Linked DNA regions of Homo sapiens: region 1 is linked to region 2. Evidence: fine-mapped QTL for protein levels in blood plasma. A gene starts in region 2. The other region holds a variant in brackets. All regions are shown on one strand. Distances are from middle to middle. Region 1 overlaps SIGLEC9 (sialic acid binding Ig like lectin 9). Region 2 holds the start of SIGLEC7 (sialic acid binding Ig like lectin 7).

Region 1 (10,064 bases), 12 kb before region 2:
GTGAGCAGGGGACACCCCCTATGATCTCCTGGATAGGGACCTCCGTGTCCCCCCTGGACCCCTCCACCACCCGCTCCTCGGTGCTCACCCTCATCCCACAGCCCCAGGACCATGGCACCAGCCTCACCTGTCAGGTGACCTTCCCTGGGGCCAGCGTGACCACGAACAAGACCGTCCATCTCAACGTGTCCTGTGAGTGCTGGGCCGGGACGCCTGGGTCCCTGATGGGGTGAGCGTCAAGCCTGGACACTGGGTGCTGGGTCCCGGAATCTGGGCTGGTGGTGGGGTCAGGAGGACACTGGCTCTGCCTTCCCTGTTTATGCGGCTCCTGGGGACAGACAGGGCCAGTGTCCCCAGCCCTCACAGTGATGCGGGTCTCCATGTCTTTCTGTCCCAGACCCGCCTCAGAACTTGACCATGACTGTCTTCCAAGGAGACGGCACAGGTAGGATGGAGCTCCCTCCCTGGGGCTGGAGGAGCAGGGCCTTCAGGTCAGGATGGGGCTGGCTTATTCCTCAACCTGGACTCACTTTGGCAAACAGGGATGTCCTTGTGGGTGAACTCAGGGCCCCTCTGTATCCTTAGGCCCCAAGGCCACTTGTTCCCATCCTCCCATCACCTCCCTTGGACTCCCCCACACACCCCCCCCTCAGCCTCAAACAAGAAGAGGGTGGCATTCACACAGCAGGACCAGGCTTTGAGGCTCCTTCTCATGTATCTCCTGAATACATCTCCACCCTTATCTGTTTATTTCTGATAGTTCTGATCTAAGTACTTCTGGACAGGTGATAAATGTCCATGGGCAAAAATTCAAATTGCAGAGCAAAGGCTCTCCTCCGATGCCTGCCCCCCTCCCCAGAACCAACCACTGTCCATCCAGGCTGCCCTGAGTCTCGGTTTGTACACCTGGAGGATCTCAGAGGTGGTTTGACGTCCGTAGTGAGACTGTCCGCACCCTCCTCTAGGGCTGTGTGTGAGTCCACTGCATGGATGGACTCTGATTTTGTGGCATCTCCTAATGGAAGATCACGGCACTAATTTCATCCTACGGCAGGATAGAACAATCTTGTATCTACTTCCACAGGAATATCTAAGCCTGTGGGTTAAGTTCCTAAAAGCAAAATGTAGCTACATTATATGTTCTTTCTTATTTTGAAAGATAAGCCCAAACTGTTCTCGATGAAGCGGGGAGAAGTTTACATTCCCAGCAGTGAGTGGTGAAAGTGTGTGTTTCCAGAACTTCAGTCTATGTCTGTGTGTCAGTTGCTGTCATCAGTCTCTTTCTGTATCCTTCCTTTTTCTCCAGATCTATGTATCTCTCTGACCCTCTGTCTCTTTTTCTACAGTATCCACAGTCTTGGGAAATGGCTCATCTCTGTCACTCCCAGAGGGCCAGTCTCTGCGCCTGGTCTGTGCAGTTGATGCAGTTGACAGCAATCCCCCTGCCAGGCTGAGCCTGAGCTGGAGAGGCCTGACCCTGTGCCCCTCACAGCCCTCAAACCCGGGGGTGCTGGAGCTGCCTTGGGTGCACCTGAGGGATGCAGCTGAATTCACCTGCAGAGCTCAGAACCCTCTCGGCTCTCAGCAGGTCTACCTGAACGTCTCCCTGCAGAGTGAGTGCACCAGTATGCTGGGGAGGGGCTGGAGAGGAGAACACACCTCCTCCACCCTTAGTAACTGCTGAGCGTGGACCTTCAGAGAGGAGCTCCGCTCTGGTCTGTGCTCAGCTGTGAGGTCTGGAACTTCCCTGGGACCCACAGCACCACTGTCCTCTTCCTGCCAGGGAAGGGTTGTGGGGTGGGGAGAGGGCAGGAGTGGATCTCAGAGGGGACAGGATGGGGCCGGACAGGTGTGTTTAGGGAGACAAGCGCCTTTCTTTGCAGGGCTGAACTGGAGTCACACAACTGAGATACTTGCTTTGAGCATCAAATTAAAAAAAAGAAAAAGCCCAGCAAGTCAGCAATCAAATGAAATCATATTGCAATGCAATAATCTTTTAAAAAAAGTAAAAATTGAATGCAAAACAAATTCATTAATGGATAAAATATTAAAATTGTGAAAAAAAACCCCAAAAGGAATGGCTGGCACTTGCACGCCTCACTGGCCTCAGGAAGAGTCTCTCCATGTCCTGCTCTCTCTCATTCCTGTTCTTTGTGTCTGGAAAGGGGAAGTGGAAATAGAAGTCTAGGACCCTACAGGAAGTGGGAGGAGAAGAGACCCAATTCTCTATGATATATCACAAAAATAACTCCCATCTGTCAACAGGCAAAGCCACATCAGGAGTGACTCAGGGGGTGGTCGGGGGAGCTGGAGCCACAGCCCTGGTCTTCCTGTCCTTCTGCGTCATCTTCGTTGTGTAAGCATGGACCCTAGAGAGGGAGGGAGGGAGAGCCCTGGGGGAGGACAGGCTGGAAGCTGGATCCCTGAAGCCAGAGCTGGAGGGACCTGGATGGGTCAAGAGCTTGGGGCAAGAAGGAGGTCACAGGTGCATGGTGAGAATTCCATGTGGGCCTGTGTTTGAGGAGCTTTGAGTCTGTGGCAAACCTTGGTACCCACTGTCCAGGAGAAGAGAGCCTCTGTTCTCAACCTTGGGGTCTCTAAGACTGGACCACTGCTTTCCCACCTCAGTCACCCCTGCAGTCCCTTAATAGGAAACACATGGGGGTACCTGGTCTGCCCACCGCACCCCAATCTGACCACACTGAAAGGCTCTCTGGTCTCTTCACTCAGAGTGAGGTCCTGCAGGAAGAAATCGGCAAGGCCAGCAGCGGGCGTGGGAGATACGGGCATAGAGGATGCAAACGCTGTCAGGGGTTCAGCCTCTCAGGTGAGTGATGTGGACTCTCCACAGCCAGCATGTAGCCTGGACACCTCCCACAGGATGACCCCCAGGACTAATCAGCTGGGCGTAGCCAAAGTTACCTCCTCTCTGTTCTTCCTTTCTTCTCTGTAGCCCCAAATCACAATGTTTGGTTGGTTTCCTCCCCTAAGAACAGCTTTTATTGTCTCTGCTCCCTATCCTGACCCTTCATTGCTGAGGCCTGAGGATCTCTGTCTTTTGTTCCCTCACCTGTCTGCCTGTCTCCTCTCCTTTCCTGCCTGGGGGGACTGTCCAGAAGACATCATCGTCCAGTTCCTCTGCATTTGAACAGCTGTTCCCCCACCCCTCAATACCGTTTAGAGCAGAAGCCAGCAAATACTATCTGTCAGGGACAGATAGAAACTATTTTCGGCTTCATGGGCCACACAGTCTCATTGCAGCTCCTCAAATCTGCTGTTGTAGCAAGAAAGAAGCCATATACCCTGTGTAAACAAATGAATATGGCTGTGTGCCAATAAAACTATTCACAAACATAAAGAGTGGGCTGGATATGACTCAGATACTGTAGTTTGACAACCCCTGATCTAGAGTAAAAATCCCAAACTCTATAGCCTGCAGCAGTGCACATTCTGACTTTTTTTGTTTTTTTTTTTTTTTGTTGTTGTTGTTTTTGAGACAGAGTCTTGCTCTGTCGCCCAGGCTGGAGTGCAGTGGTGCGATCTCTGCTCACTGCAACTTCCACCTTCCGGGTTCAAGCCATTCTCCTGCCTCAGCCTCCGGAGTAGCTGGGACTACAGGCGCCTGCCACCACGCCCAGCTAATTTTTTTGTATTTTTAGTAGAGACGGGGTTTCACTGTGTTAGCCAGGATGGTCTCAGTCTCCTGACCTTGTGATCTGCCCACCTTGGCTTCCCGAAGTGCTGGGATTACAGGCGTGAGCCACTGTGACCGGCCACATTCTGACCTTTTAAGCACCTACCTCTCCACTAGGGCAAGAACAAGGGTGAAGTGAGTGAGGCTGTTGCCTCAAGTGCATTTTTTCGTTTGTTTGTTTTTGTTTTTTGAGATGGAGTCTCGCTCTGTCACCCAGGATGTAGTGCAGTGGCACAATCTTGGCTTACTGCAACCTCTGCCTCCTAGGTTCAAGCGATTCTCCTGCCTCAGCCTCCTGAGTAGCTGGGATTAAAGGTGCACACCACCACACCTGGCTAATTTTGTATTTTTAGTAGAGACAGGGTTTCACCATGTTGGCCAGGCTGGTCTCAAACTCCTGACCTCAGGTGATCCGCCTACCTCAGCCTCCTGAAGAGCTGGGATTACAGATGTGAGCCACCGCGCCCCATCCTCACTGTCTGCTCTGACTCACTTCTCTCTCCCATGTCTCAGGGGCCCCTGACTGAACCTTGGGCAGAAGACAGTCCCCCAGACCAGCCTCCCCCAGCTTCTGCCCGCTCCTCAGTGGGGGAAGGAGAGCTCCAGTATGCATCCCTCAGCTTCCAGATGGTGAAGCCTTGGGACTCGCGGGGACAGGAGGCCACTGACACCGAGTACTCGGAGATCAAGATCCACAGATGAGAAACTGCAGAGACTCACCCTGATTGAGGGATCACAGCCCCTCCAGGCAAGGGAGAAGTCAGAGGCTGATTCTTGTAGAATTAACAGCCCTCAACGTGATGAGCTATGATAACACTATGAATTATGTGCAGAGTGAAAAGCACACAGGCTTTAGAGTCAAAGTATCTCAAACCTGAATCCACACTGTGCCCTCCCTTTTATTTTTTTAACTAAAAGACAGACAAATTCCTACCTCTCTGTACCTTGGTTTCCTGCTCTGTAAAACAGGAATGAGAAGCCCTACTTGCAAGGTTGTGGTCACCATTCCAGGAGTCACATCCCGTTAGAGCTCCTGGCACAGGTGTATGCCGAGCACTGATGGATCGCTGTGCTTTGAACACAAAGGTCCTGCTGGGAACCTCTCCTGATTCTGGTGGCAACTAGTACTTATATGTCTGTGTCACTTGCCTGCAAAATAGCGATTCTGCAACTTTCCAGGAAATAACCTCAGCCTGCAAATCAGGTCTAGGTAGCATCTGGATCCTGCCCACCTCTTCAGCCTCATCTGCCCACCCTGTGACTGCTAGGCCGCCTTACTCTCTGCAGTCTACGTATTGTGCACAGTCCAGTGGGAATCTTTAGGACACACTGAGCTCTCTCCGCACTGCTCACAGCCCATCCATGGCTCCTGGATCCTGAACCTCCCATCACATCCTCTTCGTGACATCACTCTCCCACTTCAGTCCACTCCTCCATCTTCACCACTTAACCCACTGGTCCCTCTGGTCTTTTCCAAATCATTTGCAACATGCCCTGTTGGTTCATACCTCAGTCCTTGCACACTGGGGACCCTCCTCCTAGAACGCCCTCCTCCTGGGCCTTCTTCTGTCTCTGTCTTTGAAAATGGAGTTCAAGGATTGGACTTCTGGGTTGAGCTGAGGGAGAGAGTGAAGCAGCAGCTCATGATCTCCCTCCTCTAAAGCCAAACCCAGGGAATGAGAAACGTTTCCAAAGGGGCACAGGATCATCTGGCAAATTAAACAACATGATCCAAAAAAATTTACCTACATGCAGCACCCGAACGAGGAAAGGGACATCTCACAACAATCACTTTATGCAGTAGCCCTGATAGGAAGAAATCAAAGGACTGGAGGAAGCACTAAAACTTCCCTAAATCTAGACTCTTGCCCATTTACGGCAGCATCAAAAAACCGTAAAGTACCAAGGAACAATTTTTTAAAAATCATGGCCGGGCACAGTGTCTCACGCCTGTAATTCCAGCACTTTGGGAGGCCGAGGTGGGCAGATCACGAGGTCAGGAGATCGAGACCATCCTGGCTAACATGGTGAAACCCTGTCTCTACTAAAAATACAAAAATTAGCCGGGCGTGGTGGCGGGTGCCTGTAGTCCCAGCTACTCGGGAGGCTGAGGCAGGAGAATGGCGTGAACCCGGGTGGTGGAGCTTGCAGTGAGCTGAGATCGTGCCACTGCACTCCAGCCTGGGAGACAGAGCGAGACTCCGTCTCAAAAAAAATAAATAAATAAATAAATAAATAA[G/A]TAAAAAATCATATCCGAGCTGGGCGTGGTGGCTCACGCCTGTCATCCCAACACTTTGGGAGGCTGAGGAGGGCAAATCACTTCAGGTCAGGGGTTCAAGACCAGCCTGGCCAACATGGTGAAACCCCATGTCTACTAAAAATACAAAAATTAGCCAGGCGAGGTGGCGTATGCCTGTAGTCCTTGCTACTTGGGAGGCTGAGGCAGGAGAATTGCTTGAACCCGGGAGGCGGAGGTTGCAGTGAGCTGAGATTGTGCCATTGCACTCTAGCCTGGGCGACAGAGCAAGAGTCTGTGTCAAAAAAAAAAAAAAAAAATCCTATGCTATGGTTTGGATATGGTTTGTTTGGCCCTGCCAAGCCTCCTGTTGATATTTGATGCCCAGTGTTGGCGGTGGGGCCAAATGGGAGGTGTTCAGGTCCCGGGATTGGATCCCTCATGAATGGCTTGGTGCTGTCTTCAAGGTAATGAGAGAGTTCTCACTCTGTTACTTCCTGTGAGAGTTTCTCCAAGAGCTGGGTGTTAAAAAGACATTGGCACCTCCCCTCCCCAGCCCGTGCTTCCTCTCTTGCCGTATTGTCTGCACATGCAGACTTCCTTTTGCCTTCCACCATGAGTGGAAGCTTCCTGAGACCCTCACCAGAAGCAAAGGCTGGTGCCAAGCATTTTCTATGTGGTGCAGAACTGTGAGCCAAATAAACTGTGGGGGGTGCACGGCAACATATTCAAGCTTATGTACAAGGCATTTGAGGTCGAGGCATGGAAAAATACTGAGGCACCGTGTGCGTGTTGTTTGTGCATGAGATTGAAACTCCTTGACCCTGAAAACAGGGCAAGGAACGGAATGTGTGATAAGGAGCGCGGAAAGCAGCCTCCTGAGACTGTAGTCTGAGTGTTTTTACCAGGCCATATGTGTCTCATGACCCGACCGCAAAAGGCCATCTGGTGGACATTTTGGTTTAACAAACCCTTTCGAGAAACACTTGGCGGACGGATTCTGGGGCGGCACTCTTTCAGAGATGCTGCTGCCGCCGCATCCCGCTCAGCTGGAATTGTCTGAGTGCTTCATTCTTGGCGTTCACTGCAGCTACAAGCTGTATAAACCTCTTTTCTTTATAAATTACCCAGCCTCAGATATTACTCTATAGCAACACAAATGAACTAAGATAACACGGAATGCTTCTGTACTGATGAATATAGAACATTTTTGAGAGACTTAAGGAAGGCCCAAATGAAGGAAGAAATATATCACGTTCATGGATTAGAAGGCAAAAATGGTTAAAATGTCAGTTGTCTGCATATTGATTTAGGTAATCCCTGTCAAAATTCCTATATATATATAAAATATATGTATATGTGTATATGTATGTACATAAGTATAGATGAGTGTATATGTATGTATATTGTAAATATAAGTTTATATATATACATATATAGTTATAAATTGATAAGTTGGTTCTGAAATTTATATAAACACATAAAAACCTAGAATAACCAAATCATTGTGATAAGAAACACATTTAGAGAAGGCAGACTTTAACACTAGAGTAATACAGAGAGTGTGGTGTGGACTAGAGTACAGTCTACAAATGGACCCACACATATACAGTCAACTGAATAGCATCAAGTCTATTCAATTGGGACAGGAAAGACTTTTAATAAATGTTGGTAGGTGGTCGGGCGCGGTGGCTCACACCTGTAATCCCAGCACTTTGGGAGGCTGAGGTGGGTGGATCACTTGAGGTCAGGAGTTCAAGACCAGCCTGGATAACATGGTGAAACACCATCTCTACCAAAAATACAAAAAAAAAAAAAAAAAATTAGCTGGGTGTGGTGGCAGGCAACTGTAATCCCAGGTACTAGGGAGGCTGAAGCAGAATTGCTTGAACCCAGGAGGCAGAGGTTGCAGTGAGCCAAGATTGTGCCACTGTACTCCAGCCTGGCGACAGAGTGAGACCCCATCTTGAAAATAAATAAATAAATAAAAAATAAATGTTAGCGGAACAAGTGAAATTAGGGTTGGTAAAAACGAGTGTTGAGCTGTTTCTCACATCACACGCAAAAAATTAGCCTGAAGCGAATCATAAACCTAAAAGTAAAAGCGGAGACTATAATGTTTGTACAACTGTGCTGTTTGATATGGTAACCACTAGCCACATGTGGCTACTGAGCACTTGAAATGTCCTACATTTAGTGAGAAAATAATATAAAAATCTAAGTAATTAATATTTAAAATTGATTACATGTTTCCATGTAACGGCATAATACTCATCAATATATAATAACAATATATAATACATGCAATAGCTTGAATAAATTTTGAAAACATCTTGAGTCAAAGAAGCCAGATGCAAAAGAATACATGCTCTGTAGTTTCACTTATATGAAGTTCAAGAACAGGCCAAACTAATCTACAAAGACAGAAATTCATAACAGTGACTGCCTCAGGTTGGGAGTGGGATTTGGGGATTAACGTGAATGGCACACAGGGGAACTTTCTGGGGTCCTGGGAATTTTATTTCTTTCTTTTCTTTTTTTTTTTTTTTTTTTTTTTTTTTGAGAAGGAGTCTAGCTCTGTTGCCGGGCTGGAGTGCAGTGGCTCACTGCAACCTCCGCCTCCAGGGTTCAAGCGATTCTCCTGCCTCAGCCTCCTGAGTAGCTGGGATTACAGGCACGGGCCACCATGCCCAGCTAATTTTTGTATTTTTAATAGAGATGACCACCATGTTGGCCAAGACCACCATGTTGGCCAGGATGGTCTTGATCTCTTGACCCTGTGATCCAACCACCTCTGCATCCCAAAGTGCTGGGATTACAGGCGTGAGCCACTGCGCCCAGCCAGTCCTAGGAATAGTCTATGTCTTAACTGGGATAGTAATTATGTGGTTATGAATCAAAACACATTGAATCACGCAAATAAAATCTATGTATTTTACTGTATGTAAATTTACCTTTCATGAAAGAGAAATTAAAAACTCTTAAATGATGAAAGCTTTTGGTTCCCTCTTTTTTATTAGACTAGCTAGTGATCTATCAATCTTATTTGTTCTTTCAAAGAACCAACTTTGGGGTATACTGATCTTTTGTAGGAATTTTCGTATCTCAATTTTATTCATTTCAGCTCTGATTTTGGTTATTTGTTTTATTCTGCTAGCTTTGGGGTTGACTTGCTCTTGTTTTTCTAATTCCTCTAGGTGTAATGTTAAGTTGCTAATTTGGGATCTTTCTAACTTTTTGATATGGGTATTCTGGTACATTGCATCTTTACTTTCCTGGATGCTAGGACCAAACTGGACTAGAGTAAATTACGTGGTTCCTTCTGTCCCAAAGAAAGATGTATTTTTAACTCAGGAGCTACATCAGCCCCATCTGGCTACATTAAGCATCCCAGTCTCCTCTGCGTCTCATGCTGGACTCTATGCAAAAGGGACAGCCAGCGAAAGCATTATTGATATGTCAATATTGAGATGTGAGAATTTGATCCTGTCATTATGTTGTTAGCTGGTTGTTATGTAGACGTGATTGTATAGTTGCTTCATAATGTCAGTGGGTTATACACTTAACCACTTAACACCACTTTCTGTGGTGTCATGTAACATTCTTTCACTTCTGTGTTTGGCACTCACTTAAGGACCTCTTATAAGTCAGGTCCGGTGGTAATGAATTTTTTTCAGTTTTTGTTTGTCTGAAAGGGATTTTATTTATCCTTCGTTTATGAAGCTTAGTTTGGCAGGGTATGAAAATCTTGGCTGAAATTTGTTTTCTTTAAGAATGCTGAATATAGGCCCCGAATGTCTTTGGCTTATATGATTTCTGCTAAAAGCTCTTCTGTTAGCCTGATGGGGTTCCCTTTGTACATGACCTGCCTCTTCCTTTTAGCTGCATTGAATATTTTTTCTTTCATGTGAACCTTAGAAAATCTAATGACTCTGTGTCTGGGGGATGGTAATCTTGTACAGTATCTTCCTGGGGTTCTCTGAATTTCCTGAATTTATATGTCAACCTCTCTAGCAAGGTTGGGGAAATTTTTGTGGATGATATCCTCAAATATGTTTTATAAGTTGCTGCGTCTCTCTTTTTCCAGGATTCCAGTGGGCCGTAGGTTTGGTCTCTTTATATAATCCCATATTT
Region 2 (10,064 bases):
GCCCTTTTCGGTCTTGACGATTGCTCCATTTCCCACCCAACATCCCGGTCTGCAGCCTCTCGCCTCCATGCTGTGGCCCTCGCAGCACAAGCCCTGAAAAATTTTCCTGCATCCAGAGCTGACACTGCCTCTTCCCTGCTCAGGGCCCTCTCTGGTTCCCTGGAACCCTCAGTCCAAGCTGTTCAGCTGATCATGTCCCAGCACCTCCAATTTCCCCCTGGAAGACCCCACACATATTTGCAGGGCCCTTCATCTGCCCGGCTGTCTCATGGCCTGTGCTTTTTCCCCTCCACCTGAGGTGCCCTTAGCCACCTGTTAATATGACCAACTCCCCCACTAGTCTCAGCTCAGCCTCTTTCCCTGCGGGGTCTTTCAGCTTTTTGAACTCCTGGATTTGCATTCGTGAGTATGTGTCACACAGTCAGGTGTCTCCTCTTTCTGTTTTTGTGGGGTTGTGGGAGAGACAGCCTCTCAGCTCCACCCTCCCCGCTCTCACTGTTTTCCTCACTCAACCCTGAAGACCCTGAGCAATGGCACCTCGCTTCCTGTCCTGGAGGGTCAGTCCCTGGGCCTGGTCTGTGTGACTGACAGCAACTCCCCCGCCTCACTGAGCTGGTCTCAGGAGGGAAGAACACTGAATCTCTCCCAGCTCTCAGCAACTGGGATCCTGGAGCTGCCCCAGAAAGGGACTGGAGGTGAAGGCGACCTCACCTGTGAGGCTCAGCACCCACTGGGCTCCCAGCACATTTCCCTGAGCCTCTCTGTGCAGAGGGAGCTGCTGGACGGGTGCTGGGGCAGGCAGCCTGGTCAGGTGTTGGGCTGTGAGAGGGGCCTAGACCTAGGAACAAAACCTCACCCTCTTCTCCCCACTCCCAGGAAGTCCCTCTGGGTGCAGATGTGCGAGTGAAGATCAGGAGGGCTCCCAGCCCCTGGTTCTCACCTAATCAAGGGGCGCTCATGGGCACTGGTTTTTCCTTCACCCGTGGCCTCACCTGGGGCTACTACTCCAGGTGAGCAGGGCTGCTCTTTTCTAGGGAAGCCGAGGGATTGGCCCCCGAGTTCCAGATGGGGCTGAGCTGTCCTGTCCCGCCTGAGTTAGAATTGAAGTGGCCGATGCTAATCTGAGGCCGGTGTTGGCTCTACAGGTGTGGAGGCCCCCAGGGGAGCAGGGCTGAGAGGCCTGACTGAGCCCCTCCTGCTCAAGACAGAACTCAGATGAGGACACCCAGCCCTGCGGGACAGATGCAGGACATCACTGTCAGCCATGGCTCAGCCCTTCTGACCACTGAGATGCTGCAACTTCCCCTCCTGGGAGGGAGCGATTGGGCAAACACTTACCCTTTGCTGGAAATCTCAAGGCACAGCACGGGTGCTCACAATCTGAATACAGAACGAATGAATGAATGAATGAATGAATGAATGAAATGTCTTTCCTTATCTCATGTGAGAGACTTGACAGTTCTTTCACTCTCCAAGTAACATCAGCTTCCCCTGTCCCAGCCCAGTCTGTCCTGGGCAGACAAGATTAATTAAGTGGCTCCTGGGCAGACATTGGTGCAGGAGACAGGGCCCAGGAGACCTGTGTGATTTGGGCAATTCGCTTTCTATCTCTGTCCATTCATGCTGCTACAACAAAATACCATAAACTGGCCAGTTTATAAACAACAGAAATTCATTTCTCACAGTTCTGGAGGCTGAGAAGTCCAAGACCAAGGTGCCAGCAGGTTTGGTGTCTGGAGACAGTTTGCTTCCTCATAGATGGTGCCTTTTCCTTATGTTCTCATGTGGTGGAAGGGCTGTGCAAATTCCCCTGGGTCTCTCAGATGAGGGGACTAATCCCATTAGACTAATCCCAGAGTCCTCATAGCCTAATCGCCTCCCAAATCATTATACCTTCTAATACTATCACATGGGGATTCAAATTTCAACAAATGAATTTTGAGGTGACATATTCAGACCATAGCACTTGTCACTGTGGACCTTGATGTCTTCCTCTCCGAACTGTGGAAGTGGGAGTAGAGGGCTTGTCAGCTCCCCTGGGTCATATGTGGTTCACAAGTTCCTCCTTTCTACAGATTCTGTGGCTTCCTTAAGTCTCTCCTTCCCATTTTTTTTTCTGATTTTAATTGCAAACTGGGGACTGTGGGAAAGAGATGGGCCATGGTCTAGCCCTTCTGAGGCAGGAGGAGCATAGACCAATGGGGCAGGAGCATAGCAAAGAGAATTAAAAGTTGGATAAAGGGCAGAATAAGTAAAAGCAGAGAGCAGAAGCAAGGTGAGGGGACGGGTGAGCAAGAAGCAAGAGGCAGAAGTTGAGCAGCCAAAACAAAAAGTAAGATAGAGAAGTGAGCAAGGACACCCGTGGCCAGCAGGATCTGGACCAAACCAGTAAGGGGCAGTTCTTCAGAGCTATGCATGTGCATTAGAGAGAAAAAGTATCCTTAACATGACCCTGTATGATAATCAGCTCATTAAAGTTCATGCATATGGACTGCATATTATCCATGTACTTAAAATTATGGGATGGGTCAAAGTAACTAAGCAACATACTTAACCATCAAAAAGGCAGGCACTGGCCAGGCGCGGTGGCTCACGCCTGTAATCCCAGCACTTTGGGAGGCCAAGGTGGGCGGATCACTTGAGGTCAGGAATTCAGGACCAGCCTGGCCAACCTGGTGAAACCCCATCTCTACTAAAAATACAAAAATTAGCCAGGCATGGTGGCGGGCGCCTGTAGTCCCAGCTACCAGGGAGGCAGAGGCAGAAGAATCGCTTCAACCCAAAAGGTTGAGGTTGCAGTGAGCCAAGATTGTGCCACTGCACTCAAGCTTGGGTGACTTCGTCCCCACCTCACCACCACCCCTTCCCCCCGAAAAAAGGCAGACACTGGATAGAGATTTGGCAGCCTTGGGAAGCGAAGAAAAACAAAAAAACAAACAAACAAACATAAAAAGACCCAAAGTAATGCTGATCTCACCTCATAGAGATCAGTTCGCTCTCCCTCTCCAAGAGTGTGATACTGTGCTTAATAAACTGCTGCTTCTTGCTTTGCTGTCTGTGTGTGTCTCATCCAATTCTTTGTTTAAGACACCAAGAGCCTGGAACTGCATGGCACCATCCGGTAACACTTCTGCCCACTGAGATACTGCAAATATCCTTATGGGGAGAGAGTGGCTGGGCAAGGAGGAGGCGCCCAGGAGGCAGATTGGTCTGCAGGATGAGATACTAGCTGCAAATGCAGGGATTGGAGGTGAGGGCGGGGAGTGGCTTCGGACGCCCAAACCCAGCATCTTCCTCTCTCAATCGTTACAGCCAAATGATCTCTAGGTTATGGACAATTAGGGGACAGTGTGGGCTGAGCAGATCAATGCAGTTGTATGGAAGAAAACAGACTGGGATTTTCTATGTATACAACATCTTCAGGAAAACCTACGTGAAGTTAGAATTTTCAAGGCAGCATGTGCCGATGATAAAACTACATAGAACAGCAGGAAGACTATTATCATTAAAGTGAGGCTAGGGGCTCCTTCAGGAGGGAGCGGGGGCATGGCCAATAGGAAAGGGGAATGTAAGGGTGAATGAATTAATAAAATCTCTTTCTTCATTTCAAGGGACAGACTTGACAGTTCTTTTGTGTTCTAGTTCTTCAAGGGTGCTTATTTTGTGTGAATCACTGAGTTGGTTTTTAGGGGACACTTTTATGTACATGTCTTGTGTTTCTCCCCGCTCAAAAAAAACTGTTTCAAGAAAAGCTGGCCTGGATCTAAGGGGGCTGCAGCTTGCAGGATTTTTCCCACTTCCTCCCAGCCCAGTCACACAGTTTAAAATAATCTTCTGTTGAAGTCAGGTGCGTGTTTCTTCTCTCAGAAAATCGCGCCCATCACTGAGGGTGGACGCCCCGGGGCTGGTGTCTTTGCTCCACGTCTCCTGTTCACCTGAACCCCTAGGAGCAGTTCCTGCAGGAGCAAAGCCCCAGGGCCAGCAGACCCCTCACACTCTGCACTAACCAGGCCTCATGAGATAGCAGTGGTGAAGGGAAATGTCCTTGTGCTCAGAGAGCTGTGAGGATGGGAATAGTGTCTGCTCTTTTCATATTGATCCTTTCCCTTATGACTTTCCTGTCTACCAAGCCCCACAATACAACAATCACAGCCTCAGCTTCCCCGGCCTCCTGCAGGCTGGGCTCCCCTCCGTGTCCTTGGCGTGTATCAACAGGCGCAATCCTCACCTTCACAGCCCCATGTCCGTCTGCTCGGTCCTCCTGAGACTGAACCCCCGACCTAGGGGAGAGTGACCCCACCCTGCCTGTGCCCCCCACTGAAGCTCCTGTCATGGGGAGCTCAAACGTCAGGAGACTCAGTGTCTCCCCACCACACAGTGACTCCTTGGGGACAGTGTCCGGCTCTGCTGTGTTGACCTCATTGTGCAGAAAGGGGGTGCCCACCTCGTGGCTGCTGAGGGAGGGATGAGAGGCTGCCTGTTCACCCCACCTGCACCCCTGTCTCTCATGGCCCCGAGTCCCACTTCTGAGCTACGCAGACATCCACAGCCTGTGACTCAGGGGTCTGGGCAGATGGGAGTTATTTTCACCCTGCAGAAAATATCACCTAAAGGGAAAGGCATTGAGAGGGAGGCAGGAGGTGGGGTGGGCCCTGCATGGGGTGGGAATCTGGGTGAGTCTGTCTCCCGCTCTGGCCTCAGGGACCCAGGAGTGAATGTCGGGTGGTGGACGGTGGATCTCCCAGGGCTGACCCAGCCCTGACAGTGTCTGTGTGTGAAGTTCTTCTTCTAAGGAGGTCACTGTTTTGACCTCACCACCGACTTCCTGTAGGGCCTCTTCTAAGTCTTGAGCCCGCAGTTCCTGAGAGAAGAACCCTGAGGAACAGACGTTCCCTCGCGGCCCTGGCACCTCCAACCCCAGATATGCTGCTGCTGCTGCTGCTGCCCCTGCTCTGGGGGAGGGAGAGGGTGGAAGGACAGAAGAGTAACCGGAAGGATTACTCGCTGACGATGCAGAGTTCCGTGACCGTGCAAGAGGGCATGTGTGTCCATGTGCGCTGCTCCTTCTCCTACCCAGTGGACAGCCAGACTGACTCTGACCCAGTTCATGGCTACTGGTTCCGGGCAGGGAATGATATAAGCTGGAAGGCTCCAGTGGCCACAAACAACCCAGCTTGGGCAGTGCAGGAGGAAACTCGGGACCGATTCCACCTCCTTGGGGACCCACAGACCAAAAATTGCACCCTGAGCATCAGAGATGCCAGAATGAGTGATGCGGGGAGATACTTCTTTCGTATGGAGAAAGGAAATATAAAATGGAATTATAAATATGACCAGCTCTCTGTGAACGTGACAGGTAAGGCACGGGCTCCAAGAGAGGCCAAAGGCAAATGTGATGAGGGCTTTAGGGCACGGCTGAGACGGGACACATGTCCTGGGAGGGGGCCGGGGGTGATGGACTCAGGAGAGGAGCTGGACCAGAGCCTGAGCTTCCCCAGGACCGCACCTTGGATGCCCCTCCTGATCCTGCAGGCCCCTCCCCTCACCAGCCCTGACCCACAGGCCTGACATCCTCATCCTGCCTCTGACGCTGGCATTGTGGCATGTGGGGCCTTATGACTCCTTGTTTTGGGGCCTGTCCTAGGCATGGCCGGGGTTTAGCACCATCCCAGGCCTCTCCCCACCAGATGCCAGAAGCACCCACTCCACCCATGCAGTGAGACAATAACAATTATCTCCACACATTGTTAAACGTCCTGGGGGGTTAAGTCCTCCCCAGTTGAGAGCCTTAGGTCTACACAACCCCGTGACTCTCTCAGGCCAGGCCAGGGAGGAAGCACTTCCTGGCGCAAACCAAGGGCAGCAGAGGCACCTGAGCCTGGACAGGGAGACTCAGCACACGGCCCCTCCATCTCTCATGCCCTGAGGTCCTCGGAGATCCACATTTAGATGCTCAAAAGACAGGAGGGACCTCCACGATGGTCCAGAGGCCGGGAGGGCAGGACCTACGTGTCTGGTGCAGGCCCTGGTGCTCCAGGGAAGCCCGGAGGTAGGAGGTGGGACACGGTCTCTTCTCCTCCCTGGGTGGGTCTCTAGGGTCTCTGAGCTTCAGGGTTTCCTTCACTCTGTGCAGAGGGAACCAGTTCCTATAGCATGTGGGTTTGTAGTTTCTCTTTCGTGCTGGGTTGAGGTCTCCAGCTCCTCTCCAGCCCCTCTCCAGCCCCCTGTGGGTCCCACAGCCCTGCCCCTCCTCTCCCTCCCACTTCTCTGCTCACACAAGGAGCCCAGGAACCCTCTGTCTCAGAGATGCTGCTGCCTCTCTTGTGGGCAAATGAAGAGAGGGACAGTCGGGGCTGGGCTGAGCCTCATTTCCCCACAGCGTCCCAGGCCCCACTGTCAAGATACAGGCTGGAGGTGCTGGAGTTGGTGATGGTGCAGGAGGGCTAGTGCGTCTCTGTGCCCTGCAGTGTCCTTTAACCCTATTACAACTGAACTGACTCTAGCCCTGTCCATGGATGCTGGTTTAAGAAAGGGATCAATATACAATGGAATAATCCAGTGGCCACAAACATCCCAAATGGAAAAGTGCAGGAGACACGGGGCCGATTCCACCTCCTTGGGGACCTGAAGACCAACAACTGCTCCCTGAGCATCAGAGATGCCAGGAAGGGGGATTTGAGGAACTACTACTTCCAGGTGGAGAGAGGACAGATAAGATGGAATTACAAAACGAAGCAGCTCTCTGTGAATGTGACAGATAAGGCACAGGCTCCAGGAGACACCACAGGGAAAGGTCATGGGGGTGGCAGCGAAAGCCTGGGATGGGGCCCCTGCCCTGGGAGAGGGCTGAGGGTGAAGCGAGTTGGGCTCAGGGCAGAAGCTGAACCAGAGCCTGAGCTTCCCCCAGGGCTGTACCATGGATCCTCTGTCCTGATCCTGAGTCCCCCTCTCTTCACCAGCCTTGACCCACAGGCCCAACATCCTTATCCCCGGTACCCTGGAGTCTGGCTGCTTCCAGAATCTGACCTGCTCTGTGCCCTGGGCCTGTGAGCAGGGGACGCCCCCTATGATCTCCTGGATGGGGACCTCTGTGTCCCCCCTGCACCCCTCCACCACCCGCTCCTCAGTGCTCACCCTCATCCCACAGCCCCAGCACCACGGCACCAGCCTCACCTGTCAGGTGACCTTGCCTGGGGCCGGCGTGACCACGAACAGGACCATCCAACTCAATGTGTCCTGTGAGTGCTGAGCCAGGACGCCCTGGTCCCTGATGAGGGGGGGACGTCCCTGAGGGCAGAGGATGGGGTCAGGGCTCGACACTGGGTGCTGGGTCCCAGAATCTGGGCTGGTTGTGGGATCAGGAGGACGCTGGCTCCGCCTTCCCCATTTATGCAGCTCCTGGGGAGACAGGGCCAGTGTCCCCAGCCCTCACAGTGATGCAGGTCTCCATGTCTTTCTGTCCCAGACCCTCCTCAGAACTTGACTGTGACTGTCTTCCAAGGAGAAGGCACAGGTAGGATGGAGCCCCCTCCCTGGGGCTGGGGGAGCAGGGCCTTCAGCTCAGGGCAGGGCCAGGTCCCTCCTCATCCTGGACTCACCCTGGTGATATGAGACTCCCTTGTAGTTGAACCCAGGCCTCCTCCCCATCCTTAGCCTCTGTGGCCACCTGAGCACCTGTCCTCTTCCCCCCACTCCCCTCAGACTCTTGCACACACACCCTCCTCAGCCCTGCAGCCAGGACAGGGGGAAATACATATAGCAGGAGCAGCCTTTGGGCCTCTTATCTTCCATCTCCTGAATATGCCACCTAACTCGTCTTTTTATTTTACCCAATAGTTTTGAGCTACGTTCTTTTGGATACATGCTATAATCACGTGGGCAAAAATTTTAAATTCACAGTAAAATGTGTCCCCAGAATCAACCAGGGTCTGTCCAGGCTGTCCTGAGCCTTGGTTTGTGCACCTGGAAGATCTCAGAGGTGGTTTGATGTCAGCAGTGAGACTGTTTGCACCCTCTTCTAGGGATGTGTGTGATTCCACTGTCTGAATAGTCTCTGATTTTGTGGCATCTCCTAATGGAAGATCATGGCACTAATTTTATCCTACGGCACGAACACTGCAATGAATAATGTTGTATCTACTCCCACAAGGAATATCTAAGTGTATAGGATAAATTCCTAAAAGCACATTTTACCAGTGTCATATGTTCTTTCTGATTTTGAAAGATATGGTGAAGTTGTCCTCAAATAAAGGTGGGCAAGTTTACATTCCCAACAGTGAGCGGTGAACATAAGTATGTCCCTGCACCAGCCTACATCACTCTCTGTTCCATTCCCCAGTCTCATTCTGTATCCTTCCTCCCTGTTTCAATCACTTTGTCTCTTTGAACCTCCAACTTTTTCTCTACAGCATCCACAGCTCTGGGGAACAGCTCATCTCTTTCAGTCCTAGAGGGCCAGTCTCTGCGCTTGGTCTGTGCTGTTGACAGCAATCCCCCTGCCAGGCTGAGCTGGACCTGGAGGAGTCTGACCCTGTACCCCTCACAGCCCTCAAACCCTCTGGTACTGGAGCTGCAAGTGCACCTGGGGGATGAAGGGGAATTCACCTGTCGAGCTCAGAACTCTCTGGGTTCCCAGCACGTTTCCCTGAACCTCTCCCTGCAACAGGAGTACACAGGTGGGTAAGGGAGGGGCTGGAGGAGGAGAACACACCTGCCCCACCCTCATGGGCCACCCACTGCCCCTGAGCTTCAAGGGGGAGCTCAGCTCTGGTCTGTGCTCAGCTGTGAGGCCTGGAACTTCCCTGCAACCCAGGGCACTGCTGTCCTCTTCCTGCCAGGAAAGGTGTGTAAGGCAGGAAGAGGGGAGGAGTGGGTCTTGGAGGGGAGGAGCTGGGGCCTGGACAGGTGTGTTTGGGGAGACACGTGCCTTGCTTTCCAGTGCCTGGACTAGGGTGACACAAGCAAGGCACTCACTTCTGGGCACACGACTAAAAAACAAAAAATAAAACAACTCAGCAAGCAAGTGAAATAATATTGGATGTGATTATCTTTATTAAAAACTAAAAATTATTGCAAAATAATTTGACAGTGAATACAAATCAAAATTTCAAATACAGGCAGGCTGTGCTTACCACTCTCATGCCTCAGTGACCTCAGGAGTTGTCCCTTCCTCCTCCCTCCCATTCTTGCCCTTTGTTTCTGGGAAGGGGGATTAGGGTACCCAAGTTGGGGGCCTTATAGGAAGTGGGAGGAGAAGAGACCCAGTTCTTGGAGTTGGATCACCAAAACAATTCCAATCCATCCTCAGGCAAAATGAGGCCTGTATCAGGAGTGTTGCTGGGGGCGGTCGGGGGAGCTGGAGCCACAGCCCTGGTCTTCCTCTCCTTCTGTGTCATCTTCATTGTGTGAGCACTGACCCTAGGGAGGGAGGGAGAGTCCTGGGGGAGGGCGGACTGGGAGCAGGATCCCTGAAGCCAGAGCTGGAAGGGACTGCATGGGTCAAGAGCTTGGGGCAAGAATGAGCTCACGGGTGCGTGGCAAGAATTTCAAGAGCGCCCTTGTCTGTGGGGCTCCACATCTGTGGTGAACCTTGGGCCCCACCACCCAGGAGGCAGGAGCCTCTGTTTTCAACACTGGGGTCTCTGGGACTGGACCACCCTCCTCCCACCTCAGTTACCCCTCCAGCGCCCCAACAGGAAATACAGGGCAGGGGTTGGTCTGCCCACTGCACCCCGATCTGACCACACTGAAAGGCTCTCTGGTCTCTTCACTCAGAGTGAGGTCCTGCAGGAAGAAATCGGCAAGGCCAGCAGCGGACGTGGGAGACATAGGCATGAAGGATGCAAACACCATCAGGGGCTCAGCCTCTCAGGTGAGTGATATGGGCGTCTCCACACCCAGCATCCAGCTGGGACATCTCCCACAGGATGGCCTCCAGGATTTCTCTGCTTATCATGGCCAAAATTATCTCCTCATCTCCTCCTCCTTCCCACCATCCAGCTTCTCCTGCAGGATTCCCCATCTTGCTGACTGCATGACAGTCCCTCCTACCTACTTTCTCTCGG

What was found. A credible set is the group of variants that fine-mapping cannot tell apart. PIP is the chance, under the fine-mapping model, that this variant and not a neighbour inherited with it causes the effect. Sun 2018 read protein levels with aptamers (SomaScan).
Region 1: its variant is the best candidate, but not a certain one, in a credible set for the plasma level of the SIGLEC7 protein (Sun 2018, PIP 0.58).

Annotation. Positions count from the first base shown.
Region 1 is chr19:51,125,684-51,135,747 of GRCh38, forward strand. It overlaps SIGLEC9 (sialic acid binding Ig like lectin 9), which reads left to right. Exons shown (of 7, transcript NM_014441.3): 2 at 1-192; 3 at 398-445; 4 at 1,347-1,613; 5 at 2,266-2,356; 6 at 2,731-2,827; 7 at 4,208-4,627. The coding sequence ends at 4,396. Among named protein-coding and RNA genes, the nearest start is that of SIGLEC9, 5.8 kb to the left of the region's middle. RefSeq lists an enhancer at 3,244-3,293. The variant G/A (reference allele first, on the strand shown) is at 5,934.
Region 2 is chr19:51,137,447-51,147,510 of GRCh38, forward strand. It overlaps SIGLEC7 (sialic acid binding Ig like lectin 7), which reads left to right and starts at 4,855. Exons shown (of 7, transcript NM_014385.4): 1 at 4,855-5,356; 2 at 6,960-7,238; 3 at 7,466-7,513; 4 at 8,409-8,675; 5 at 9,308-9,404; 6 at 9,775-9,871. The coding sequence starts at 4,924. LOC124904749 (a long non-coding RNA gene) reads right to left here and starts at 3,064. Exons shown (of 3, transcript XR_007067310.1): 1 at 2,978-3,064; 2 at 1,339-1,380.